2 separate regions of the Homo sapiens genome follow, and region 1 is linked to region 2. The links come from fine-mapping of genetic effects on plasma protein levels. A gene starts in region 2. The other region holds a variant in brackets. All regions are shown on one strand. Distances are from middle to middle.

Region 1 (9,896 bases), 41 kb after region 2:
TGAGAAGAGACCTTATCAGCTTTGAGAAGCCAAGGAATCCCAAGCATGATAAATACAAAGAAATCCATGCCCAGAAACATCCTGGTGAAGCTTCAGAATATTAACGAAACAGAAAGTCTTAAAGCAGCAAGAGAAAAAAAATTAAAGGCCTGACAGATTAAGCTCAGTCTTCTGTATAGCAACCTTGAAGCCGGAAGACAATGGAATCTTATTCATGTGCTGAAAAAAAAAAAAACTGTCAACTTAGAATTCTATACCTAGTAAAAATACTTTCAAGAGGCCGGGTGCGGTGATTCACACCTGTAATCCCAGCACTTTGGGAGGCCGAGGCAGGCAGATCATGAGGTCAGGAGTTTGAGACCAGCCTGGCCAACGTGGTGAAACCCCGTCTCTACTAAAATACAAAAAAATTAGCCGGGGTTGGTGGTGCATGCCTGTAGTCCCAGCTACTTGGGAGGCTGAGGCAGGAGAATCACTTGAATCTGGGAGGTAGAGGCTCACCATCTACCCGGCTAATTTTTTTGTATTTTTAGTAGAGACGGGGTTTCACCACGTTGGCCAGGCTGGTCTCGAACTCCTGACCTCATGATCCGCATCCCCCCTCCCCCCGCGGCCTTCGAAAGTGCTGGGATTACAGGCGTGAGCCACCGCACCCAGCTCAATGGCTGAACTTTTAGCTTCATTTTAGCAGAGTTCAGACACCCCCATAATCCTAATCTTGTGAGTTGTCATTAGTTTTACAAAGGCAGTTTGGTCCCAGAACAAACAGGTGGTAGTTTTGGGAAGGGCTATTATCATCCTTGCTTTAAGTTTAAACCATAAATTAAATTCCTCCCCAAGTTAACCTAGCCTATGCCCAGGAATGAACAAGGACAGTTTAGAGGCTAGAAGCAAGAAGAAGTCAGCTAGATTACATTATTTTACTGCCATCATTTTCCTGTGTCGGGTCTTACTCACTGTCATAATTTCTTTTTTCTTTTTTTTTAAAGACAGAGTCCTACTCTGTCACCCAGGCTGGAGTACAGTGGGGTGATCTCGGCTCACTGCAACCTCTACCTCCCAGATTCGAGTGATTCTCCTGTCTCAGCCTCCTGAGTAGCTGGGATTACAGGCACCTGCCACCATGTCCGGCTAAGTTTTAGTAGAGACGGGTTTTGCCATGTTGGCCAGGCTGGTCTCGAACTCCTGACCTCAAGCACTCCACCTACCTTGGCCTCCCAAAGTGCTGGGATTACAGGTGTGAGCCACTGCACCCGGCCTCTGTCATAATTTTTGCAAAGGCGGTTTCAGTGGGGTCTCCAAACCACTCTCCTTGGCCAGGTTACCAGTTTCCCACCTGGGCACAGTGGGTTAGGGTCCTGGGGGTTGGTCCTCCCAACTCCAGTGTCTTCTGGTACCATCCTCCCTCCTTGCAGCAAATATAGTGTCTGTGGTCCAACTCTGGAGTTACTGTGGCCAGAGGCTCTTAGTTACCAGATTAACTGTCCCTTCCCCACTCCTTTCCCCACCAACCATCTGCTTCTGTACCAGCTACCTGGCTAGGAGGATTTCTACCTCCCCCTACCTAGGGGTCTGGCCCTGTGGTAAGACTGCACCCACCCGTGAAGCCACGCCCCATCCAGGAAACCACACCCACTCAAGAAGCCCTGCCCACCCAAGAAGCCCCACCTGCCAGCAAGCCACAGCCATCCAAGAAACCCCACCCATCCAGGGAGCCCTGCCCAGCCCATCAGATGGTCCCACTCACCCATGAAAGCCACTGCCGAGGTATTCACAGCCCTGCTGCTATTCGGCCTGCCCATCAGGAGCCAGTCCACAGAACTCCATTAACCTTGCTGTCAAAACAGGGTTTCCTGGCTGGGGGGCTTACTCCTGTAATCCCAGCACTTTGGGAGGCTGAGGCGGGTGGATCATTTGAGGTCAGGAGAATAAGACTAACCTGGCCAACATGGGGAAACCTCGGGAGTTCTAGACCAGCCTGACCAACATGGTGAAACCCCACCTCTACTAAAAATACAAAATTAGCTTGGCATGGTGGCATGGGCCTCTGATCCCAGCTACTCAGGAGGCTGAGGCAGGAGAATGGCTTGAACCTGGGAGACTGAGGTTGCAGTGAGCCAAGATGAAGCCACTGCACTCCAGCCTGGGTGACAGAGTGAGACTCTGTCTCACAAAAACAAAAACAAAACAAACAGGGTTTCTTTTTATAGACAATCTCCAAAGGCAATTTCATGATGATTAGATTCAAACAGGATGGCACCTAGGAATTGTCCAATCTTCAACATTATCTAGAAAGTTTCTCCCAAATGATGCTTTAGTTTAGAATACTGTACCCCTCTCTCTCTCTGCATTTTCACAATCTGAGGTTTTTCTTGTTTGATCGTTTATTTTATTTTATTTTACTATTCTATTTTTTGCACCAGAACGCCCATGGAAACACATGCAGTCCCGTGACCTCACGCTGGATTTTTCAGTTTCTAGAAATTAAATCAGCAAATTTGGAGTCCAAAGAAATGGGTTGCTAGGTGTGGTGGCACACCCCTGTAATCCCAGCACTTTGGGAGGCTGAGGCAGGTGGATCACTTGAGGTCAGCAGTTTGAGACCAGCCTGGCCAACATGGCAAAACCCTGTCTCTACTGAAAACATAAAAATTAGCTGGGCATGGTGGTGCACGCGTGTATTCCCAGCTACTCGGGAGGCTGAGGCAGGGAAATTGCTTGAACCTAGGAGGTGGATGTTGCAGTGAGCCAAGGTCACGCCACTGCATGCCGGCTTGGGAGACATAGCGAAACTCCATCTCAGAAAAAAGAAAAAAAAAGAAATAGGTTGTTTAAAACTTGACAATAATAGAATTTTACATGAGAACTATGGGGGTGTCTAGCATGTTTCCCTTGAGTGTAGGCTGTCAGCATTGGTGAAGTGATCGCTTTGGGTTGCTGATTGAGAAGCTACTTGTTCTCTCAGAATGGAAGAATATTCAGGAGACCGGGTCTGTGGTCTGTTAGAAACCAGGTTTCAGAGCAGGAGGTGAACGATGGGTGAGCGAGTGAAGCTTCATCTATATTTACAGTGGCTCCTCAACACTATTATTACTGCCTGAGCTCCGCCTCCTGTCAGATCAGCTGTGGCATTAGATTCTCATAGGAGTGCCAACTCTATTGTGAACTGTGCATGAGTGACCTAGGTTGTGTGCTCCTTATGAAAAATCTAATGCCTGATGATCTGTCACTGTCTCTCATCACTCCCCTGTTGTGACCATCTAATTACAGGAAGGCAAACTCAGGGCTCCCACTGATTCTACATTATGGTAAGTTGCATAATTATTTCATTATATATTACGACATAATAATAGAAATAGGCTGGGTGTGGTGGCTCACGACTGTAATCCCAGCACTTTGGGAGGTGGAGGTGGGCAGATCACCTGAGGTCAGGAGTTTGAGACTGCCCTGGCCAACATGGTGAAACACTGTCTCTACAAAAAATACAAAAATTAGCTGGGGGTGGTGGTGGGCACCTACAATTCCAGCTACTTGGGAGGTTGAGGCAGGAGAATCTCTTGAACCCGGGAGATGGAGGTTGCAGTGAGCCGAGATCGTGCCACTGCACTCTAGCCTGGGTGACAGAGTGACACTCCATCTCAAATAACAATAATAATAATAATAGAAATAAAGTGCACAATGAATGTAATGTGCTTGAACCATCCCAAACCCGTCCCCCTCGACCCTCCTGGTCCATGGAACAATTGTCTTCCATGAAACCAGTCCTTGGTGCCAAAAAGTTTGGGGACTGCTGGTCTGGACAACCTGGGCTTCACAATTTTTAATTTGTTTGTAGGCTGTTACTGTAACAGGCCGAGAGGTGCTTGTAAACTTCAGAGGTTGTTTACCAGAGAGCCAAAGAAGGTGTTTAGAAATGTGTGTGACATGCTATAACCCAGCTCCGGCCATAGACCCTGTTCCGATGAAGACAATGTTCTATCTCTAATGATCCAATATGGCAGACAGCAGCCATATGTGGCATTGTACTCTTAAAATATGGATAATGCAACTGAAGAACTAATTTTCTTTTTCTCTTTCTTCTTTCTTTCTTTCTTTCTTTTTTTCTGTTCTTTCTCTCTTTCTTTCTCTCTCTCTTTCTCTCTTTCTCTCTTTTTTTCTTTCTTTCAAGACAGGGTCTCACTCTGTCACCCAGGCTAAAGTGCAGTGGCACGATCCGGGCTTACTGCAACCTCCACCTCCCGGGTTCAAGTGATTCTCCTGCCTCAGCCTCCCGAGCAGCTGGGATTACAGGCGCCTGCCACCACACCAGGCTAATTTTTGTATTTTTAGCAGAGACAGGGTTTCACCACAGTGGCCAGGCTGGTCTCGAACTCCTGACCTCCGCCCGCCTCGGCCTCCCAAAGTGCTGGGATTACAGGCGTGAGCCACCACGCCTGGCCAGCCAACTTCTATTAATATTTTAGAAAAAGGGGATGCAAGTGCAGGTTTGTTACAAAGGTATATGATGTGATGCTGAGTTTTGGGGTATGAATGAATATGTCACCAAGGTAGTGAGCATAGTATCCAGTAGATCATTTTTTCAGCCCTTGCCCTGCTCCTTCTCTTCTACCTCTAATAGTCCCTGTGTCTATTGTTTTTATTTTTATGTCCATGTGCACCCAATATTTAGCTCCCACTTATAAGTGAGAATAAGCGTTATTTGGTTTTTTGTTTCTGCGTTAGTTAGCTCAGACTAGTGGTTTCCAGCTGTATCCCCGTTGCTGCAATGGACATGATTTTGTTCTTTTTTATGGCTGTGTAGTAATCCATGGTGTATGTATACTGTATTTTTCACCATAGATGGGCATCTAGGTTGATTCCATGTCTTTTCTATTGTGAATACTGTTGTGCCATGGGTGCAGGTGTCCTTTTGGTAGAACAATTTATTTTTTGGGGGGATAGTTACCCAGTAGTGGGGTTGCTGGGTTGGTTGGTACTTCGACTCATAGTTCTTTGAGAAATATCCGAACTGCTCTTCGTAATGGCTGAACAATTTACATTCTGACCAACAGTGAATGAGTGTTCCCTTTTCTCCACAGCCTTGCTGCCATCTGTTTTTTTTTTTTTAAATATATGAGGAAAGTCTTGCTCTGCCACCCAGGCTGGAGTGGAGTGGCATGATCATGGCTCACTGCAGTCTCAGACTCCTGGGCTCAAGCAATCCTCCTGCCTCAGCTTCCTTAGTAGCTGTGACTATAGGCACACACTACACCAACACACACAGATAATTTAAA[AT/A]TTTTTTTTTTTTGGTAGAGATGAGGTCTCACTATGTTGCCCAGGCCGGTCTCCAACTTCTGACCTCAAGGGATCCTCTAGCCTCTGCCTCCCAAAGTGCTGAGATTTCAGGCATGAGCCACTATACCTGGTCTTTTTTTTTGACTTTTTTTTTTTTTTTTTTTTTTGAGGTGGAGTCGCACTCTGTCGCCCAGGCTGGAGTGCAGTGGGGCCATCTCAGCTCACTGCAACCTCTGCTTCCCGGGTTCAAGTGATTCTCCTGACTCAGCCTTCCGGGTAGCCAGGATTACAGGTGTGTGCCACCATGCCCGACTAATTTTTTTGTGTTTTTAGTAGAGACGGGGGCCAGGCTGGTCTCAAACTCCTGACCTCGAGTGATCTGCCAGCGTCAGCCTCCCAAAGTGCTGGGATTATGGGTGTCAGCCACCATGCCCGACCTTTCTTGACTTTTTAACAAAAGCCCTGATAAATGTAGTTATACCCTGACTTTGCCTCACTATAGGCCCCTGTGCCCACAAACTTCCTATGGTCACTTTCCTAATATCTAAGTGTAAAATTGAGATTAATATCCTCACCACCCTGCAGAATTCCCACACTGACTTCCTAACCTATAGAATAAGAAATGTTAGGATGAGACCAGTGGATGGCTCTTGTCAAAATAGTAAACCAAAAGCAATTCTGCACTGCTGCATTTAATCACAGTGATTTTTTTTTTTTAAAACAGTGTCTCACTATGTTGCCCAGGCTGGTCTTGAACTCCTGGGCTCAAGTGATCCTCCCGTCTCCCAAAGTGTTAGGATTACAAGTGTGAGCCACTGTGCCCAGCTGAAAGATTCGTCTTGACATAACAAAGAATCGCCCTCCAAAACCTATTAATGATTGGCCGGGTATGGTGGCTCACACCTGTAATCCCAGCACTTTTGGAGGCCGAGGTGGGCAGATCACCAGGTCAGGAGATCGAGACCATCCTGGACAACATGGTGAAACCCCATCTCTACTAAAAATACCAAAATTAGCTGGGTGTGGTGGCATGTACCTGTAATCCCAGCTACTTGGGAGGCTGAGGAAGGAGAATCACTTGAATCTGGGAGGCAGAGGTTGCAGTGAGGTGAGATTGTGCCACTGCACTGCAGGCTGGTGACAGAGCGAGACTCCGTTTCAAAATAAACAAATAAACATATAAAAAAAACCTATTAATGACCTTAGCTTTATAGATGTACTTAGTGCCATGGTCTGAATGTTTGTGGCTCCCCGAAATCCATATATGTTGCCATCTTAACCCCCAAGGTGATGATATCAGGAGGTGGGGCCTTTAGGAGGTGTTTTAGTCTGTTCTCACATTGTTATAAAGAAATAACTGACACTTCGGGAGTCCGAGGTGGGTGAATCACTTGAGGCCAGAAGTTCGAGACCAGCCTGGCAAACATGGTGAAACCCCTCTCTACTAAAAAATGCAAAAATTAGCTGGCAGTGGTGACACACACCTGTAATCCCAGCTACTCGGGAGGCTGAGGCAGGAGAATCACTTGAACCCGGGAGGTGGAGGTTGCAGTGAGCCAAGATCGCACCACTGCACTCCAGCCTGGATGACAGAGCAAGACTCTGTCTCAAAAAAAAAAAAAAAAAAAAAGAAGGAACTGAGACTGGGTCATATATATGTTTAATTGGCTTAGGGTTCTGCAGGCCATGCAGGAAGCATGGCTGGGGAGGCCTCAGGGAGCTTTTACTCATGGCAGAAGGCAAAGCCTGAGCAGGTGTCTTCACACAGCCAGAGCAGGAGGAAGAGAGAGAGTGGGGAGGTGCCACACACTTTTAAACAACCAGAGCTCATGAAAACTCTACCACAAGAATAGCACCAAGGGGATGGTGTTAAACCATTTATGAAGGATTCACCTCCATGATCCAATCACCTCTCACCAGGCCCCACCTCCAGCACTGGGGATTACATTTTAACATGAGATTTGGGTGGGGACACAGACCCAAACCATATCAGGAGGTGATTAGGCCATGGTGGTGGAGCCCTCATGAATGGGATTAGTGCCCTTATGAAAGAGACCCAGAGGCCAGATAAGGTCATACCCATAATCCCAGCACTTCGGGAGGCTGAGGTAGGTGGATCACTTGAGGTCAGGAGTTCGAGACCAGCCTGGCCAACATGGTGAAATACATCTCTACTAAAAGTACAAAAACTAGCAGGGCATGGTGGCACATGACTGTAGTCCCAGCTACTTGGGAGGCTGAGGCAGGAGAATCATTGATCCTGGGAGGAAGAGGTCGCAGTGAGCCCCAAGCCTGCCTGGGTGACACAGTGAGACTCTGTCTCAGGAAAAAAAAAAAAAAAAAAAAAAAAAGGAGACCTAGAAAGACCCTTGCCCTTCTACCATGTGAAGACACAGAAAGAAGGAACTGTCTATAAGCCAGAAAGCAGGATCTCACTAGACACAAAATCTGCCTTGATCTTGGACTTCCCAGCCTCTAGAACTATGAGAATAAATGTCTGTTGTTTATAAACTACCCAGTTTACAGTATTTTGTTGCAGCAGCCTGAACAGACTAAGATACTTTGCTGATTTTTTTTTTCTTTTTTGTAGCTGTCCTTTAATAGGTTGAGGAAGTTCCTTCTATTTACTAGTTTTCGGAGAGCTTTTATCAGTAATGGACGTCAGATTTTGTCAAATGCTTTTCCTGCATCTATGGAAATGATCATGTGGTTTCTCATCTTTAGACTGTTGACATAAGAAATTACATTGATTCATTTTCAAATGTTTAACCAGCTTTGTATCCCTGGGATTAACCCCACTTGGTCATGATGCATTATTTTTATGTATTGCTATGTTTTATTTCATAATATTTCCTTGAGGATTTTTGTGTCTATATTCATTAGGGCTATCGGTCTAGTTTTCTTGTAATGTATTTGTCTTGGTTTGGTATCAGAATAATGCTGGGCTCATAAACAAAGTTGGGAAGTGTTCCATTTTCTGAAAGAGTTTGTGTACAGTTGGTATGATTTCTTCCTTAAGTGTTTGCTGGAATTCAATAGTAAAGCAATTCAGTCATATTAGCAAGCTTAGATCTTTCTATAGGAAAGACCGTGGTATGATTTTTTTTATTATACTTTAAATTCTAGGATACATGTGCACAACATGAAGGTTTGTTACATAGGTATACATGTGCCATGCTGGTTTGCTGCACCCATCAACTCGTCATTTACATTAGGTATTTCTCCTAATGCCATCCCTCCCCCAGCCCGCCAGCCCCCAACAAAGTCCAGTGTGCGATGTTCCTGCCCTGTGACCAAGTGTTCTCATTGTTCAATTCCCACCTATGAGTGGGAACATGCAGTGTTTGGCTTTCTGTCCTTGCGATAGTTTGCTAAGAATGATGGTTTCCAGCTTCATCCATGTCCCTGCAAAGGACATGAACTCATCCTTTTTTATGGCTGCATAGTATTCCATGGTATATATGTGCCACATTTTCTTGTCTTTTTATTCATTTTCTTTTTTTGAGATGGAGTCTTGCTCTGTCACCCAGGCTAGAGTGCAGTGGTGCAATCTCGGCTCACTGCCAGCTCTGCCTCCCGGGCTCATGCCATTCTCCTGCCTCAGCCTCCTGAGTAGCTGGGACTACAGGCGCCTGCCATCACGTCTGGCTAATTTTTTGTATTTTTAGTAGAGATGGGGTTTCACCACGTTAGCCAGGATGTTCTTGATCTCCTGACCTTGTGATCCACCCTCTTCAGCTTCCCAAAGTGCTGGGATGACAGGCGTGAGCCACCACATACTTTTAAATAAAACGTACACCTCAATAAATTCACTAAGACCAATCATGCTATAGATATCTGGGCTTGCAATTCAAGAATAATATCATTAAAATAAAAGTTTTAAGCACACACTTTAAGATCACCAATGGTGGAAAACCAGTTTTAACAATAATATATTTATTTTTTATTTTATTTATTTATTTTTTGAGATAGAGTCTTCCTCCGTTTCCCAGGCTGAAGTGCAATGGCACAATCTCAGCTCACTGCAACCTCTGCCTCCTGGGTTCAAGCAATTCTTCTGCCTCAGCCTCCCAAGTAGCTGGGATTACAGGTGTGAGCCACTACACCTAGCTAATTTTTTTTTTGTATTTTTAGTAGAGACCGCGTTTCGCCATGTTGGCCAGGCTGGTCTTGAACTCCTGACTTCAAGTGATCCACTCACCTTGGCCTCCTAAAGTGCTGGGATTACAGGCATGAGTCACTGCACCTGGCCTAAAAATAATGTATTTATTATTATTTTATTTTTTAAAACACAGAGACGGCTGGGTGCAGTGGCTCACTCCTGTAATCCCAGCACTTTGGGAGGCTGAGGCAGTTGGGTCACCTGAGGTCAGGAGTTCAAGACCAGCCAGGCCAACATGGTTTAAAATACAAAAATTAGCAGGTCGTGGTGGCATGGGCCTGTAATCTCAGCTACTCGGGAGGCTGAGGCAGGAGAATTGATGGAACCTGGGAAGCGGAGGCTGCAGTGAGCTGAGATTACACCACTGCACTCCAGCCTGGGCGGCAGAGTGAGACTCCATCTCAAAAAAAAAAAAAAATTAAAAATAAATAAATAAATAAACTGAGAGTAGCAGTTTACG
Region 2 (9,892 bases):
ATCATCACTGGTTTGACTTAATCCAGCTCCAACTCCTTTGTCTTGGTCTCCCTTTTTTTTTTTTTTTTTTTTTTCCAGAGATAGGGCCACTCAGGCTGGAGTGCAGTGGTGCCATCATAGCTCACTGCAGCCTCAACCTCCCAGGCTCAAGCAATCCTCCTGCCTCACCTTCCCAAGTAGCTGGGACTAGAGGCACGAGCCACCGTGCCTGGCTAAGTTTTGTATTTTTTTTCTTTTTAAGAGTCGGGGTCTTGTTATGTTGTCCAGTCTGGTCTCAAACTCCTGGCCTCAGGGGATCCTCCCACCTTGGCCTCCCAAAGGGCTGGAATTACAGGGGTGAGCCACTGTGCCCCGCCCCCTCCATGTCTACCTCGTCTCCTCCTCACTTTCCTTTGCCTCTGTCTCTGCAAGACCCCCTCTGCCTTCTCTGTCTCCTTTCTTTTTCTCTCCCCTTTTATCTACTTTGTGAGCATATCCCTCTCTGGCTGTTCTATCCTGCCCCTGTCCCACCCGTCCTTTCTGTCTCCGTGTGTCTGCCTTTGTGTGTCCTCCCGCCCCCGACTCCTGTCCTCCCCAGCCTTCTCTCCCTCTGCACTGCTGACCCTGTGCGGGCAAAGTTGGCCCAGTATCGCATCAGTCGCTGGGCGAAGATTTTCTCCTCTGCCGTGTAGTTTCGAGAGGGGTCCAGGGGGATCCCAAAGATGAACTCGATCTCGTAGCCGTGGGGCACCCCCATCCACAGGGGCCAGGAGAGCGTGGAAGCACGGTGTTCAAAGACGTAGGCGTAGACCCGGGCACCCTGGGCAGCCAGTCGCCCAGCCAGCTGGGCCACGGGGCACACGACATTGTGGTCGCCCACCACATCGCTCAGGGCCTCCCTCAGGCGTGCCGGGTCCTCGGGATGCAGCCAGTCTGTGTAATGCAGGACCACAGCCTCGGCTGCCAGGTCACTTACCTGGGGAACCCCGACCCGCACCCCGGCCAGGAACTCGGCCCGGCTGATGAGAGACTCGTTGTCTTTGCTGAAGCCTGGGGCCCCGTAAACCAGAAAATACGAGCCCTCATCCTTCACCACACCCACCAGCACCTGGGGGTGAGGGAGAGGGGGGTGGGATGGAGCGACAGGCACAGACAGACAAGTAGACAGAAACAGATGGACAGACAAAGAGCCAGAGAGATGAACAGTTACAGACCCGGAACCATGGACAGAGAGAGGACGAGATCAGGGGAGGGATGCAGAGAAAGAGAAAATAGACCCATGGTGGCTTTCCTGTCTGCCCTGCTGACCACCCTGGGATCTGAGCCCTCAGGGAGGACTTCTGGGACTTCTGGGAATGGGCCTGGAGAAGCCCTCATGCCTGGGTCCCTGCAGGGAGGGGAGGGACCGTTGGGACCCAGAGGAGCCAGCTTCACGCCAGCTAGCCACTAGTTACCTGCAGGCCGTGGAAGTCTCCCGCGTTGATGAGGGCCTCTGGGGTGTCACTGAGGAAGTCTCCATCTACCACAGGCACGAAGGAGAACCGGAAGACGCTTTCTTGAGGCAGCACGTGCCATTCGTGGTTCACCAGGACCTGCGCTGGTCGTGTCCGAAGGCAGGCTACCAGCTCTGTGTCATTCCCACCAGTGCCGCCTGGAGGACAGCCCACAAGGTGGGCCAGCTGCGTGGCCCTGCGACGGGCCTCTCCCATGCCCACCGTGGCCCAGGGTCCATTGGGGGCACCGCTCTGCAGCACGGCCCTGTGGAACAGGCCCCGGCTGGGCGGGGACAGCAGGTGCATGCCCACCGAGGCGGCTCCCGCGCTCTCCCCAAACAGCGTCACTGATGTCGGGTCACCCCCGAAGGCTGCCACGTTCTCCTGCACCCACTGCAGGGCCAGCCTCTGATCCAGGAGACCCACATTGCCCGGGGCCTCTCGGCTCCCCGGCAGGGCCAGGAAGCCAAAGGCTCCCACCCGGTAGTTCATGGACACCAGCACAGTCCTCTCGGCCTGTACCAAGAAGCGGCCATCGTACACGTCCAAGGAGGAGGCCCCACTGTAGAAGCCACCCCCATAGATCCAGACGAGGACAGGGGTGGGGGATGTAGGCCGGGGGTATGGTGTCCACACGTTGAGGTACAGGCAGTCCTCGCTCAGCTCACGGTTGGGGTTCCACATCTCGGTGCCCTCAAAACCTGGGTATAGGGTGTCCACATATTGGTAGCAGACACTCTGGAAGGTTGTAGCGTCTACCACCCCTGACCAAGGCTGCTTGGGCTCCGGTGGCAGAAAGCGACGGGGTCCCATGGGTGGCTCCGCAAAGGGGATGCCCAGGAAAGCAGAGACAGGGCCCCCGGGGGTCTTCAGGCGAATGCCCCGCAGCCGGCCCCCACGCACCGTCACCAGCAGCTCTGCATCCTCCCGGCCCTCAGCCCCCACTCCTCCACCCAGGAGCCAGAGGAGGAGGAGAAGGAGTGGGGAAGCCAGGGAAGGCGTGTGCAGCAGACACTGCGGGGGCCTCATGGCTGCAGGGCAGGCGGCGTCTGCTGGGAGAAAGAAAGGGAAAGGGTGAAGGGTCGGTCGAGAAGCCAGGAGGGAGGAGATTAGGGCACTGTCGGCCCAAGGGTTATCGCTCAGCTGCAGAGGAGGTGGGGCAGGTTGGCAAAGATGAGGGGAGAGAGGGAGGGAGGGAAGGAGACAGGCAGAGACAAGGACACAGGCCAGCGGGCAGGAGGGGAAAGAGATCAGGCAGACACCCATATCCAGACAAATGCAGGGAACAGAGAGGAGCACCCTCTCTGCTCCGCAGGGGTCCACTGCCCTCACCTCTTCCCGGAACTGGGCCGGGCCCAGCTCGTGCAGTGAGGGCACCAGAAGCCTCAGTCCACGAACAGGCCACCCGACAGGGCGCGGCCTCACGGACGGGCAGCGCCGCTGGGGGAGCTTGCGGCGGCCTGAAGCGCAGCCCCGCTCTCCTGGGTCGGCCAGACCCGGGGCCCTGGGGGGCGGTGGGCTGGGCATTCAGGGTGTGGAAGCCTCAGGTCCCGGGGTCCCCCAAATCCTGCCTAGTCCACTCCCCACCCAACCCTGCCCCTTCTCATCCAATGTCTGGCACCGAGCGCTGATGCCCGCGGGTTCCCATCAGCTGCGCACGCTCCCAGCCCAGCCCCAGCAAACAGGCTCGCCAGCCCGCGTCCCCCAGGACTCGAGAGCCCCCCATCCGTCTGAAGCTGCCGTGCACGCCGCCGCCGGCGGAGGGCAGTAGAGACCGAGAAAAGGTCGGCGCTCCCCGCCCCGAGCCAGGAGCCGGGAACTTGGGGAGGGGGCCTGGGGGCTCGAGGGCCTTGCAGAGCCGCCTGAAGGGCGAGCCGGGACGCCTGCGTTCCCGGGACTCCGGAGATCCCCGGCTGCAGGGGCGGGGGCGCTATTTTGGGGGCAGCAGCTGCTACGGTTCCGGCATCTCCAGCCAAAGGATCAAAATTCCCCGGGTGGGAACTCCCCCCTCTCCCGCCGGTCACTCCTAGCCCAGCCCCCGCCGCCCTGAGCGGGGGGTGGTGGTGCTGCTGGAGATTAACTAGGAAACCCGAGTGGCGCTAATTATAACTCGGGGCTTCCGCCGAGCCTCCCCTTCCCAAAAAATAGAGATGGAGTCTCCGCGGGAGGGGGCGTCCTGGGCCTCGGAGGGGGCCTCTGCGGGGCGCTGCGCAGGGGCGCTGGCTTGTGGCCCTGGGGATGGGGGTGCCCAGCCCGGCGCCGGGAACCTGCGCAGCTCGGGTACCGCCCCAATTAGGGGGTGTCTTCCAGTGGCCCCGGACTAGGGAGCGATCGGGGAAGGGGTGCTCGGGGGTCCCCGCGGGAATCGGAGCGCAGAGGCGGCGGCCGTTCCCGCGGGCTCGGGCTCCTGCGTGGGCGTCGGTGAGTGTGAGGCGGCCGGGGAAGAGTTCCGGACGAGTGCGGGGCAGCGGAGGGCGGCGCGGGGCAGGCCCGGGGAAGCGGGAGCCGTCCCGTTAGGGGGGCCTGGACCCCTCGGGGAGCGCACGGTGCCCCGGACCCGGGCCTTAAGGAGAGTCCCGGGCGGGGAGGGAGACTCACCTGAGGCGGCCGAGCCGGGCCGGGCCGGGCCGCGCCGGGAGCTGGAGGCGGCCGATGTTCCCCGGCGCAGGCTGAGCCGACTCTGACAGCCGCCGCCTCCGGCCCCCCGCACACACCCCCTCCGGGCCTCACAGCGCCCCCGCCCGCCCCCGCCCACTGTCTCCGCCCCCGCCCCTCCCCGCTCTCCCGGGTGGCCACCTCCCCTCTCTCTCCCTCCCTTGGAGCCGAGACCCGGAGACCCCGGGGCCCAGACGCACTCCAGTGCCAGACGCCGACCGACGACAGAGCGCAGTGACAGACGCGACCCAAAGACCTGCAGCGGCGGAGTAGACACCCACGTGACAGACAGACGGACAGAAGCCCGTGGAGACAGACACGCGCAGACGGACGACCTCATGCAGTGACAGGCACAGACAAACGCAGGGACGACTTTCACAGACGGACGGACACACTTGGACACCCTGTCGGTCTCGCTCGAGGCTGGTGAAGTTAGCGCAAGGCCAAGGGGTCATGCATCCCCGGCCACGACACAGACGGGTGGCATGGGAGGAGAGGCATGTGGGAGTGTGGCAGAGTACCGTCCCCTTAGGGGTCCAGGTGGCACGGGTGCAGAAAAGGTGACGTGGGACACTCCTGGGGATGAAAGGACACCTGTGGGAATGGAGATGTAAAATGGGATCGCTAGTGGAAATGAGGTGGGAGGGCATGGAGACAGGAGACCCCTGGGGGAGGAAGGGGTGACTTGGGACACCTGAGAAGGCAGGACAGCGTGGTAGCACGCGCAAGGCTGCTGGGCGAGGCCGCACTCCGCGGCGGCAGTGGAAACTTCTGGAACCCCCGCGGGTGGGTCTGTGCTGGTTCCCTGACGGGTGACTTCGGACTTTCGTCACCAGGGTCCGGTCGGGGCATGACATCACCAGGCCTAGCATTCATTGGCCACGCGGCTGGCAGGTGGGAGCGGCCTGGCTCGGGCGCCCCCAGCCTGCTCCGAGGGGCCTGACCCGCGCAGATTGCCCCCCGCCCCGCCCTCCAGGAGTTCACCCGTGTGGACAGGGCTGCTGCAGCGGGGTCCCCACGACCGAGGTGCATGCGGCAATACCGCGCGGCGCCTGCTTCCTGGAGGCGGCCGGCTCAGGAGCCCCCGAGACCCCGCGTGGGAGAGCGGCCGGCGCAGGCCAGCGTCGGGCGTGCGTGCGCGCGCGCGGCGGTGCGGGGCGCGGCGTGGGGTGGGCGCGTGCGCACACGCTCGCTCTAACCGCCGCGCGCCCCGCAGCGCCCCGCAGCGCCTCGGGCACGCGGGCGCCGCCGCCAGGGACCGCGGGCACCGGGTTGCGGGGCCTCGCAGGGGTTGAATCCGGAGTCTTGCCAGTCCCTGGGCCGCGCGGTTCCCGGCTCTCCAAGCTGGGCGGGCCCCACGCCCGCTCGCCCCACGGGAACCGGGTCCCGCAGGCACGGTCACCCGCGCTCCGCTCGCTGGAGACGGCCGCCAGGTGGCGCAAAAAGCAGCCACTCGGGCCTCGGAGACTGGGCTGGGTTGGGGGTGTTGGGGAGGTGAACCCCTCGCCATCTGTGCCCACTGTCTCCGGCTTTCCCCGCCCCAATCTCAGGCAACCCCAAATCCCCTGCCTGGACACCGAGGCTCCTTGTATCCGGCCTTCAGCGTTCTGGCCGCACTAGTTGAAGGCTCCTCACTGGCCAGACCATGTGCCCTAGTTGAGATCCCTGAAGAGCAGATGTAAGGGCTGTGCATGGGGGAGGGGACAGGAGGGTGGATGGTGGGTGTTGCTGCGGGGGGAATGAATCTGAGGCAGGTTTCTAAGCGTGGTAATTATGAATTATTAAAATGATGGGGCCGCGTGTGGCCCCTAGTGCGGTGCCTGTAATCCCAGCACTCTGGGAGGCCGAGACAGGAGGATCGCTTCAGTCCAGGAGTTGGAGACTAGCCTGGGCAACATAGCGAGACTCCCTTCTCCGCAAAAAAATAAAATGATGGAAACAAACTGTGAACGAGTGCTCTGAGGCCTGCCCCAGTCCTGAGGCTTTAGGGATTTTTGGCCCTGCTAGTGATGAAGGCTTGCCCCTGTCACCCTCCAGACGAACTGTGCCACGCAGGTGTCACCTAACCTCTGTCGTCACGAGTTTCTAGGCCTGTACAATGAAGATAGGGAGGGCAGGGATAGTTTATCACCAGGGTTATCATTTCCTGGAACTATCCCTCTTTTCACCTTGAGCTCTCAGCAACCGTTGTCAACACAGGCACCTAACCTGTCAAGCCAGGAGGCGTTTCCCTACATAGTCTAGCATAGTAAACTCCCCACCCTCCACAGCTGTCACTGCAGGGATGTCCTTGATTTTTCCCATTTCTTCTCTCACCATTTCTGTTTATCCAGGAATGAGCCTTGCTTCTACTACCAGTTCTGCCAATTCAGAGAATTTCCCTACCCCTCTTTTATCTCTGTCTCCCACCTTGGAAGGAAGCGCCATTTTTTTTTTTTAGACAGAGTCTCGCTCTGTCGCCCAGGCTAGAGTGTAGAGATGATGCCATCTCAGCTCGCTGCAACCTCTGCCTCCTGGGCTCAAGGATTCTCCTTTCCCAGCCTCCTGAGTAGCTGGGACTAGAGGCGCCTGCCACCACACCTGGCTAATTTTTGTATATTTAGCAGAGGTGGGGTTTCACCATGTTGGCCAGGCTGGTCTCGAACTCCTGACCTCAGGTGATCCTCCTGCCTCAGCCTCCCAAAGTGTTGGGATTACAGGCATGAGCTGCCATGCCTGGCAGGGAACCCCACTTCTATTACAGACCTTGATCCACATCTTCTAACACAAAAGATTCTTATTTCCTCTATTTATTGGTTAATATTCAATTCAGCTGTATGAGACCAAAAACCAAATAATGGCTTTAACAAGATATAATAGAGGCCGGGCATGGTGGCTCATGCCTGTTGTAATCCCAGTATTTTGGGAGGCTGAGGCAGGCAGATCACCTGAGGTTGGGAGTTCAAGACCAGCCTGACCAACATGGAGAAACCCTGTCTCTACTAAAAATACAAAAAAATTAGCTGGGCATGGTGGCCCATGCTTGTAATCCCAGCTACTCAGGAGGCTGAGGCAGGAGAATCGCTTGAACCCAGGAGGTGGAGGGTGCAGTGAGCGGAAATCATGCCATTGTACTCCAGCCTGGGCAACAAGAGCGAAACTCTGTCTCAAAAAAAAAAAAAAATAATAGAAATGTATTTCTTGGGCCAGGTGCAGTGACTGTCGTCCCAGAACTTTGGGAGGACAAGGAGAGAGGATCACTTGAGGCCAGGAGTATGAGGCCAGCATGGCCAATGTGGTGAGACCCTGTCTCTACAAAAAATAAAAATAATTAGCTGGGTGTGGTGGTGCATACTTATAGTTCTAGCTACTTGGGAGGCTGAGGCAGGAGGATCACTTGAGGCCAGGAGTTTGAGACCAGCCTGGGCAACATGGTAAAACCTTGTCTGTACTAAAAATACAAAAATTAGCTTGGTATGGTGGTGCGTGCGTGTACTCCTAGCTACTTGGGAGGCTGAGGCACAAGAATTGCTTGAACCTGGGAGGCGGAGATTGCAGTGGGCCAAGATCTCGCCACTGCACTCCAGCTTGGGTGACAGAGGGAGACTCTGTCTTAAAAAAAAAAAAAAAGAGACCTAGAAATGAGTCTTGCAGGGTTGGCATGGTGCCCTCAATGTCAGGGTCCAGGCTTCTTTACACGGAACCCTGTTGCTCCTTGCACAGTATCTTGTTACTGCACCATCTTCAGCATGTGACTTCTACCGCATGGCATAGAATGGCTGCTGGAACATCAGCCATCACATCTACATTCCAGCCAGCAGGAAGGAGGAGGGGCTGAAGAACAGTATCTCCTATTTATTTATTTATTTGACAGAGTCTCACTCTGTCGCCCCAGGCTGGAGTGCAGTGGCACTCGGCTCACTGCAACCTCCACTTCCCAGGTTCAAGTGATTCTCCCACCTCAGCCTCCTGAGTAGCTGGGATTACAGGTGCGCACCACCATGCCTGGTTAATTTTTTGTATTTTTAGTAGAGATGAGATTGCACCATGTTGGCCAGGCTGGTCTCAAACTCCTGGCCTTAAGTGATCCACCTGCCTCAGCCTCCCAAAGTGCTGGGATTACAGGCCTGAGCAACCATATCCGGCCGAACTCTTCCTTTAATGATGAGCCTTTGCCCAACCCCCCATTAATCGAGATTGTAACCTGGCAGAATTGGGAGCCTGAGGCCACACAAAGGACTTTCCTCCCTCTACCCACCCCTTCCTATGTCCCCTACTTAATGTTGGGCCAGCCTTCCTGCTGGATCCAAGTTACGTCATCCTACACAGGATAGGATGATTTCTCTTTGCGGCTTATCCATCCTTTTTACCCTTTTCTCTCTTGCTAGTTATGAGCATTTCACACATTTTTTATAGCTTGTCTCTACAAAGTCTTACTTTATTTTCACAATTTTGTTATTTATTTAACGAGTATACAGTATTTCCCATGCAATTCGCCAAATAACCTTTTGCTTAGTTTAGCCTCTTTTCTGGCCGGGGGTAGAGTGGAGTGCGGGTGGCATACCCTTGTGCTCAGAATTTTTTTTTTTTTGGTCTCATTCTGTCACCCGGGGTTGGAGTGAAATGGTGTGATCATATCTCATTGCAGCCTTGAAGTCCTGGGCTCAAGCAGTAACCCTCCTTCAGCCTTCTGAATAGCTGGGACCACAGGTGGCACCACCATGCCCAGCTAATTTTTAAATATTTTATTAATTTGTAGAGACGGGGTCTTGCTATGTTGCCCAGGCTGGTCTTGAACTCCTGGGCTCAAGCGATCCTCCCACCTCTGCCTCCCAAAGTGCTGGGATTATAGGTGTGAGCCACTGCGCCCGGCCATCAGAACTGATCAGTACTTTTCTTGGCATTCCTTTTTGCCCATGAACTTGAGTGCTTCTGAAAGGAGTGAAATATGCAATTTAATTCACCAGTAGTACATTGAACGCCATGTTGCCACTCATCTTCCCTGGTATGACCTGACATCCATCTGACATGGTCCCTGGCATGCTGGTCCAACTGGCTGTCAGTTCCTGGTCTCACAGGTTCCAGCCAACCCTGACTCGGTTTTCAGTTTAAATGTTAGCAGTGCATCTTGAATGGCTTCTTGGAAATAGCTGGTGAGGTTACACTAGGTGCTATAGATGTTTGACACCCAGAGAGCTCCTGGTCACTCCTGGCTGCCCTGCAGGTATCAAGTGGCCAAGTGAGAGCTGTGCCGGAAGCACAGGTTCCATAGATGACCTTGGCTGGGGTTTCCAGGGACACTGAGTATTTAACACAAGATTGGTGCAGAAGTGAGGAGGACTGGTTTGGGATTCTGCCACCTGGCTTGGGGACAGTGCAGGCTGGCTGTGAGGTTGGCCCAGTGGTCAGCTGGATCCCTTAAATGTCCACAACACTGGGGACAACAGGGTGGAGTGGAAGAGTAGCCCAGATCCAATGTTGCTTTCACAGTAGCATGTATGGGGAAGAAGAGCTTGTTTGCCAGCCGCTTCCTGAATGCTTTGCTAAATATCATTTCATTTAATTCTCACTTGTAGCATTCAAATGGGGTAGGCTGTATTTTCTTTGCCTTTTTTTTTTTTTTTTTTAGACGAAGTCTCGCTTTTGTTGCCCAGGCTGGAGTGCAATGGCATGATCTTGGCTCATTGCAACCTCTGCCTCCCGGGTTCAAGTGATTCTCCTGCCTCAGCCTCCCGAGTAGCTGGGATTATAGGTGCATACCACCACGCCCGGCTAATTTTTTGTAT

Alleles and levels. Positions count from the first base shown, and alleles are read on the strand shown. Strength reflects both the effect of a copy and how common the allele is.
For the plasma level of the protein whose gene starts at base 4,157 in region 2, AT is the low allele of the variant in region 1 and A is the other (strong association).

What was found. PIP is the posterior inclusion probability: the model's chance that the variant is causal. The UK Biobank Pharma Proteomics Project read protein levels with antibody pairs (Olink). The fine-mapping took linkage between variants from a reference panel, not from the people measured, so its PIPs are less certain.
Region 1: its variant is fine-mapped to the plasma level of the ACHE protein (UK Biobank, PIP above 0.99).

The regions. Positions count from the first base shown.
Region 1 is chr7:100,932,241-100,942,136 of GRCh38, forward strand. LOC105375431 (a long non-coding RNA gene) reads right to left here. Exons shown (of 3, transcript XR_007060457.1): 3 at 9,819-9,896. Among named protein-coding and RNA genes, the nearest start is that of MUC3A, 12 kb to the right of the region's middle. RefSeq lists an enhancer at 1,171-1,672. The variant AT/A (reference allele first, on the strand shown) is at 5,274.
Region 2 is chr7:100,891,732-100,901,623 of GRCh38, forward strand. ACHE (acetylcholinesterase (Yt blood group)) reads right to left here and starts at 4,157. Exons shown (of 5, transcript NM_000665.5): 1 at 4,071-4,157; 2 at 1,434-2,521; 3 at 603-1,087. The coding sequence starts at 2,501. RefSeq lists enhancers at 224-963, 964-1,702, 3,974-4,594 and silencers at 3,949-3,998, 4,059-4,208, 5,431-5,510.